Linked DNA regions of Homo sapiens. The protein of the gene in region 2 interacts with the protein of the main gene of each other region in a pairwise test. Each region holds a gene or a part of one and is shown on either strand. Other genes may lie near its edges.

Region 1 (3,835 bases), on a different chromosome or scaffold from region 2:
GACAGTGGCATGAAAAGTTAGAGCAGATATCATTGAGAATATGTAATTCTTCAGATATAAAATGCAAGTGGAATCTTACTTCCTTTATAATGAAAAAGTTTCTAACTGGGTCTAGTCATCCAGAGATACTTTGTAAGCTAGACATCTGTCTTATACAGTTTTTTATAACCTATACCTTGATAAAGAGAAATAGTCTAACTGAAAACCAAAAATTTCTATTCCTGAGTAGAAATCAAAGAGGAAAGTCTCTAGAGTTTTACGAGTGTAATGATAAAATTAATATTTCCCATTAATAACTCCTACAGATACTCAGTAAGTGCAATGGTGAGAAAAAGGATAGCGAAGTAGATAAAAATAGAGGGAAGAGACACAACAAATGAGGAGATGAACACACAAAATGGGGAAAGAGAACACACACACAAAATTAACCAAGAAAAAGGTATGAGAGACCTCTCACTTAGTGAACATTTACCATATGCCAGACTCTATGCTGGGTACTTCATGTTCTATTCTATTTCATCGGTAAGTAAGATAAGGGGTAAATCATGTTAGGCCACTTTCTAGGTTAAAATTCTGAATGGGCAGTTTACCTAAACCCCTAGATTCTAGAGTGAAACCCGTCAGCCTGGTGTTAAGTTTCAAACTCTGCTCGTACTCAAAGATTTCTGAAAGAGGAAACTTGCTCAATGGTCCACATTCCCTTAGCTCAGAAAAAAACATTGCACAATTTTTCAGAAACCCACTGGGTGTGATCTTGGATGTCATTACCACCTGATAATTATCCAGGTGAAAGTAACAAGTGTGAACCATGCACCCTGCACAAGTGGGCATTGTGAAGTACCAGTGGTTCATGTTCTCATATTCAACCAACAAGCCAACCAAACACCAGTCAATTAATAAAACCAATCAGTTAATAAACATTTCTTATGGTCCTACTTTATCACCCAAAAAATTTACACAAAGTCAAACACTTCAACAAAAAAGTCAATGAAACATCCCACTACTTTGTTAAATAATTATAAACATTGTAACTGAATGATCGAATTTTTTTTTTCATGAAGATGTCTGTAACATTACTATTAGTTCACTTATAGGAAAGAACTATCCATAAAATCATATAATTTTAAAACTCGGTATTTTTCCTGGGTATTCTTGAATATCCACAGTAGGGCTAAATCTGTGTCAATGTCTAAGAAAGGTTAGTCAACATTCTTAGATATTGAGACAGTAAATATATATATATATATATATATATATATATATATAATAAGTATACATGAATATTATATACAAAAATACTTAAGCTCTGCTCTCTTTTTTGGAAAGTATAAGTATACATACTTTTTTCCAAAAAAAAGAGCAGAGTTTAACTTAAGTATTTTTGACTCATTTTGTAAAATCAAATAGCAAACAGCAATGTTAGAGTGAAAAGTTCAATTTCAGCATGGGAATTAATAGGCCTGTTCTAAAACCTCATTTCATCATATAGGGGGTATAAAGTTCATAGCCTCAGATTGGTCACAGAAAACCTTAGGCTGAGAGGATTCCCAGGTGATGGACTTGATTGAGTTTCTCTGAAGGCCTGACGTTCTCTCTGATCTCCCTGGTGACCCCAAGAGGCCAGGGAATCCTAGGGACCTGGAGATCCTAAATGACTGAGCTGTCAGCAATCTCTTGCGTAATTACAGCCTTACGTCAGGAACTAAAGAGTGACTGCGAAAGGAGTTGTTTTAGGAATTTGGAGAAGCTAAGGGTTGTTTGCTTTTCTAGTATTGGTCTACTGAAATGTTTGCAGAGAAAAATGCTGGTGCCAGGCAGGCATCGCATAATCAGATACAATTGATTATTATGAAGCTTAAATGCACTAAACATATTGAACTTCCCTTTTCAAGTCATGGAAAAATACTGGGCTAAACTATTAAAACTGGGAATAAACAATGTGAGGAGTAGCATAAAAATGTGAGTCATTTAAAAAATGGATTTAATATCAGGCTTTGTGAATTATATTTGATGTTTGACCAATCATGCTCTCGTATCTTTAGGAGAAACAATGAACTGTCTGTGATATGCAGAAACAATCAAGGAAAAAGTACCATTTTATTTCTGTGTAATAGCTACATAACCTATGCAGAAAACACAAAATGATTGTGGAAAAATGAGAAATAAAATAATTTTTCGTTGTCATTTTAAAGCAGTAGTTTATGAGTGTGTGTGGCCTTTTGTAAGCTTTTAGAAAGAGTTCCTGTGGGCATGTGTGTTTGTTTGTGTCCAGGGTTGCTGTTTCTAGATCCAGTACACAAATGTCTCTCTTCTTTCAGATAACACCCAGAAGACCTGTACACTTTTTAACGAGGTGGTGCAGTGCCCTTGACCCTATTTTATCAGCTGTCAACAACTAGAGGCCCACATCCCCCTTTGTAAAGAGTATTTCTCAATAAGTTATTATATGAGCAGCAACTGGCGAGTACAGCTTGTGATGTTAGAAATGCTAGTAATTCCCTTACCTCTTCCTTCTCAGCACTTTGCAGGTCACGCCATTCCTCAGTTACATGGCCAAAATCCACTGTGTTCATAGGGACTTTAAATTCTCCAATGATGTCATGCTTAGAGAAACGATCAAAATCATATACAGCCATCACTAGGGTTTTGCCACCCAATTCCGAGTATGGTACCTAAATTAAAAGACATGAGGATAAAATATCCAGTCACAAAAATGCTTAAAACATGTTACTTGTTCATGGTGCTTAATTTAATATTTACGTTGCATAAACAGAACAGGGAGATAATTTTGTTTTTGGTTATTTTTTAAATTCAGACTTTTGACAAACTGCTTGAGGCTAAAATTACTTGAGAGAAAATGGGAAATTTTAGTGATTTATTGCCTTATCTCAAAGTTCTAGAAGCTGTTAGCATTATTAATAATGGATCCTGCTGTTAGTTATACTATAAAGCCTTAAGATTAATAAAACAATAAACAAGCCAATTGCATTTGACTATAAGTAAGTTTTTCTTGTAGAATATTTTGTTGTTATTGTTGTTTTAAGTTGTATTGTCAGGGTGTAACTTACTGAGGGGCAAATAACTTATTTCAAATGCTCCATTAACTCTTTCAAGGCATTTAAATGCCACAGTTCAATGGAGCAATGATTTATTAAAGGCTATGCTAGGAGTCTGAAAGGATTGAAATGATATTCACAAGTGCCTCACCTACTCCCTAAAATAATTTGCTGATTGACAAGAACTGACTAGGAAATTGATGTTTTGAATATAAGAGGTGCATTATAATATGGGTTTTGAAGTTCATTCTTGGGTATGACATGCCTTAGGATGAGTGGTGGCAAAAGGCCAAGAACTGATGAATTCTCCAGCTGTTCAAATATATCTGGGACAGATGCTATGGGTTGGGATGTTTATTAGTGACATTTTTAATATTCAGTGAAAGCAGTGCAATCCAAGTAAGCTACACTTCAGTAACTGGGTAGAAATACCTAATTAAGAAATTGTTTAGACTTGTCTTAAAGGTTTGATCAATTTTCATACACTTCCTATTATTTTATCAGTGTAAATGGTTGTCTTATGCTTCAGCAAACATTTCTCAATTAACTCTGTATATTAAGGAGGGAAGAAAAGGAAGAATATTGGGCCATCTACATACAAGAAATTTTAGTTTTCCAAAGAGTTTTTCTTTTCTGTCATTTATTTACCATCTGTTTGGAACCTGATTATTTTATTAAAATGATATGATTAAAAAGTAAGCATCATCCTTTTTCCATTTTAGAAGGAATGGAAAATAAACCCTTCCAAAGAGCTGACTCTCAAAGAAAGAAACAAAATT
Region 2 (3,428 bases):
CGCCCTGCTTCCTTTGGTGGGAATAAGTAGCTATGCCAAAGTCAGTATCTGCCTGCCCATGGACACCGAGACCCCTCTTGCTCTGGCATATATTGTTTTTGTTCTGACGCTCAACATAGTTGCCTTCGTCATCGTCTGCTGCTGTTATGTGAAGATCTACATCACAGTCCGAAATCCGCAGTACAACCCAGGGGACAAAGATACCAAAATTGCCAAGAGGATGGCTGTGTTGATCTTCACCGACTTCATATGCATGGCCCCAATCTCATTCTATGCTCTGTCAGCAATTCTGAACAAGCCTCTCATCACTGTTAGCAACTCCAAAATCTTGCTGGTACTCTTCTATCCACTTAACTCCTGTGCCAATCCATTCCTCTATGCTATTTTCACCAAGGCCTTCCAGAGGGATGTGTTCATCCTACTCAGCAAGTTTGGCATCTGTAAACGCCAGGCTCAGGCATACCGGGGGCAGAGGGTTCCTCCAAAGAACAGCACTGATATTCAGGTTCAAAAGGTTACCCACGAGATGAGGCAGGGTCTCCACAACATGGAAGATGTCTATGAACTGATTGAAAACTCCCATCTAACCCCAAAGAAGCAAGGCCAAATCTCAGAAGAGTATATGCAAACGGTTTTGTAAGTTAACACTACACTACTCACAATGGTAGGGGAACTTACAAAATAATAGTTTCTTGAATATGCATTCCAATCCCATGACACCCCCAACACATAGCTGCCCTCACTCTTGTGCAGGCGATGTTTCAATGTTTCATGGGGCAAGAGTTTATCTCTGGAGAGTGATTAGTATTAACCTAATCATTGCCCCCAAGAAGGAAGTTAGGCTACCAGCATATTTGAATGCCAGGTGAAATCAAAATAATCTACACTATCTAGAAGACTTTCTTGATGCCAAGTCCAGAGATGTCATTGTGTAGGATGTTCAGTAAATATTAACTGAGCTATGTCAATATAGAGCTTCTCAGTTTTGTATAACATTTCATACTAAAGATTCAGCAAATGGAAAATGCTATTAATTTGGTTGGTGACCACAAGATAAAATCAGTCCCACGTTGGCTCAGTTCAACTAGATGTTCCCTGATACAAAGAGAACTTGATTTCCTTAAAACTGAAAAGCCAAACACAGCTAGCTGTCATACAAGAAACAGCTATTATGAGACATGAAGGAGGGTAAGAATTAGCTTTAAGTTTTGTTTTGCTTTGTTTTGTTTTTTAACTCAACCTATTAATCATCTCTTCACAAGAATCCACCTGATGTGACCAAGCTATTATGTGTTGCCTGGAAAAACTGGCAAGATTTCAGCTTATGTGGCCTAGCAAACTAAGAATTGCTCTTCTTGGCCAGCCTCATAGCATAAAAGATGTGAACTCTAGGAAGTCTTTCTGAGTAGCAATAAGTGGGAATTATGGGCAGAGCACACTCAATCCCCTGTTGATTAATAAAACAGGCTGGACACTAATTAACTATGGGACTTAAATCTGTAGAAATGAAGGAGTCCAATAGCTTCTTCCAATTTTAAAACTCTAGTACATCCCTTTCCCTCAAATATATATTTCTAAGATAAAGAGAAAGAAGAGCACTAAGTAAGTAGAATCTGTTTTTCCTATTTTGTAGGGCTGCTGACTCCTAGTCCTTGAAGCCTAGACACATGACCCAGGAAATTTTTCCTTTGTTTCACTTTTGATTATGATGTCTGAGCCAAAAATTCAATTAAGTAAACATACTCGCCTGGATCTGAATCATTCATTTAATTACTAGATCTACCCAGCTGTTATATCAGGCCAAAAACAGATTCGTGTTTATATAAAAGAGTAAACGATGGTTGCAAATTTTGGCTATTTAGAGTTGCTACTTCACTATGAAGAGTCACTTCAAAACACTTCGCTTGTCTTTAGGGATGATTTTTGCCATTTCCAGTCCACGGTATGATACTAAAGCTGTCAAGAGAGGTTTCTTCTTTTCTGAAACTGCCAGCTCTTTCCAGCCCTGTTGATCACTGGACATAAAGCTTCTTTTCCCCAATAATTCTTCTTTACTTAAAATAGTCAGGATCTTTATCTACAGATGTACTCTCCAGGTTACCTGTGATGATAGCCCCCTAATGTCCTGCTAGAAAAGTCTCCAAGCAGAGATGACATTACTTCTGAATGCTCATAAACCACACCATGAAATAAAAGCTCTTTGTTGTTTTAAGATTGTGAAGTGTCGTTAATGGGTCCCCACAGATGGTCCCTGCTGGACTCACCTGGAATCTCTCCACAGCCATACCCACTCATCACTATCATTGAGACCTGCACATCTTAATAGAAATATTATAAACATCGAAAATCATGACTTACCTAGAAGTTCGCTTGTAACTAATGAAATTAAACAAATGTGTTGCCTTTTGTCATGTGTTTCTCTCCTGTGACATTTCAAAATATCACATCTTGATAAATAATGTGTTTCATCTTGAATAGCTGAACTAATTGCTTTGGAAACAGAGTCCTAGAAAAGTGACTTCAACAGAATTGTTACTAAAATTTGCACTCACAACATGAAATAAATTTTCTTCCTATGGAATAATCGTGCCAAGTCCTAGAGTGTTGTTCTTTTTTGTTAATCTGTGAGTTTCTTTCGGGGTTACTATTGTATGTGTTAAAACTGAAGACAAGAAAACTAATTGGCACATTTGCTAATGAATCCATATTAATAAATAAGTTGTTGACTGTCAATTAATAACTTAAATATAACATTGTGTCTTGATCAAAAGTGGTCTTTATGTGGAAAAACTTACTCCTGGTGAACTGAATTATGATTAATTGACAGGGATCACTAAGAGAAAAAACAATAAAACCAAATATATCAAGCAAATGATTGGTATTGACACTAGAAATTTAAATAGTGTGCTAATGAAGACAATAAACCTCTAAGGCCTCAGAGGCCTTATTATTATTCAGAGCTCATGTTATCTAGCACCTTTCAATTATCTGAAGATAAACCCAAATCATTGAGGATAAATGGCCACAGACTAGTCGCAGTGGAGGTCACACAATTCATTCTCTAAAGCTCATGCATGTTTCTCAAAAGGCTGTCTCTTAAAACACCCCCAAAGTTTATTGACTCTTGCTTTAAGGATAATCTACTGCATCAAAGAAGCAGCCAATGAGGAGAGGGTCTTACAGGGCAGCACCATGAGAGTGGCAATAAAGTAAAAGTCAGGGCAAAAAGAAGAAAACTATAACCACAATACTTTTTTAAAACAATAGAAGTTTGAGAACAAATGCTCCTACTTTAGGAGAAAACTGTTTCATAACATAATTGAGTGATTCTCATTCATTCTGAGTACCTAAAGGGTGCCAGAGAAACTTGTTGGCATCACTGCATTCTGTTTTAAAAGCTATAAAAGTTCCAGCTCCAAGTGGTAGAC

The links.
Region 1: the proteins of TSHR (region 2) and SYT1 interact in a two-hybrid assay, tested with the Homo sapiens proteins (one large-scale study listed by BioGRID and IntAct).

What each region holds. Positions count from the first base shown.
Region 1 is NC_000012.12:79,298,221-79,302,055, reverse strand, and holds part of SYT1 (synaptotagmin-1), read right to left. Parts: intron 2,673-3,835; coding exon 2,505-2,672; intron 1-2,504. UniProt on the Homo sapiens protein: Calcium sensor that participates in triggering neurotransmitter release at the synapse. May have a regulatory role in the membrane interactions during trafficking of synaptic vesicles at the active zone of the synapse.
Region 2 is NC_000014.9:81,143,714-81,147,141, forward strand, and holds the end of TSHR (thyrotropin receptor isoform 1 precursor), read left to right. Parts: coding exon 1-640; 3' UTR 641-2,593; downstream 2,594-3,428. UniProt on the Homo sapiens protein: Receptor for the thyroid-stimulating hormone (TSH) or thyrotropin. Also acts as a receptor for the heterodimeric glycoprotein hormone (GPHA2:GPHB5) or thyrostimulin. The activity of this receptor is mediated by G proteins which activate adenylate cyclase.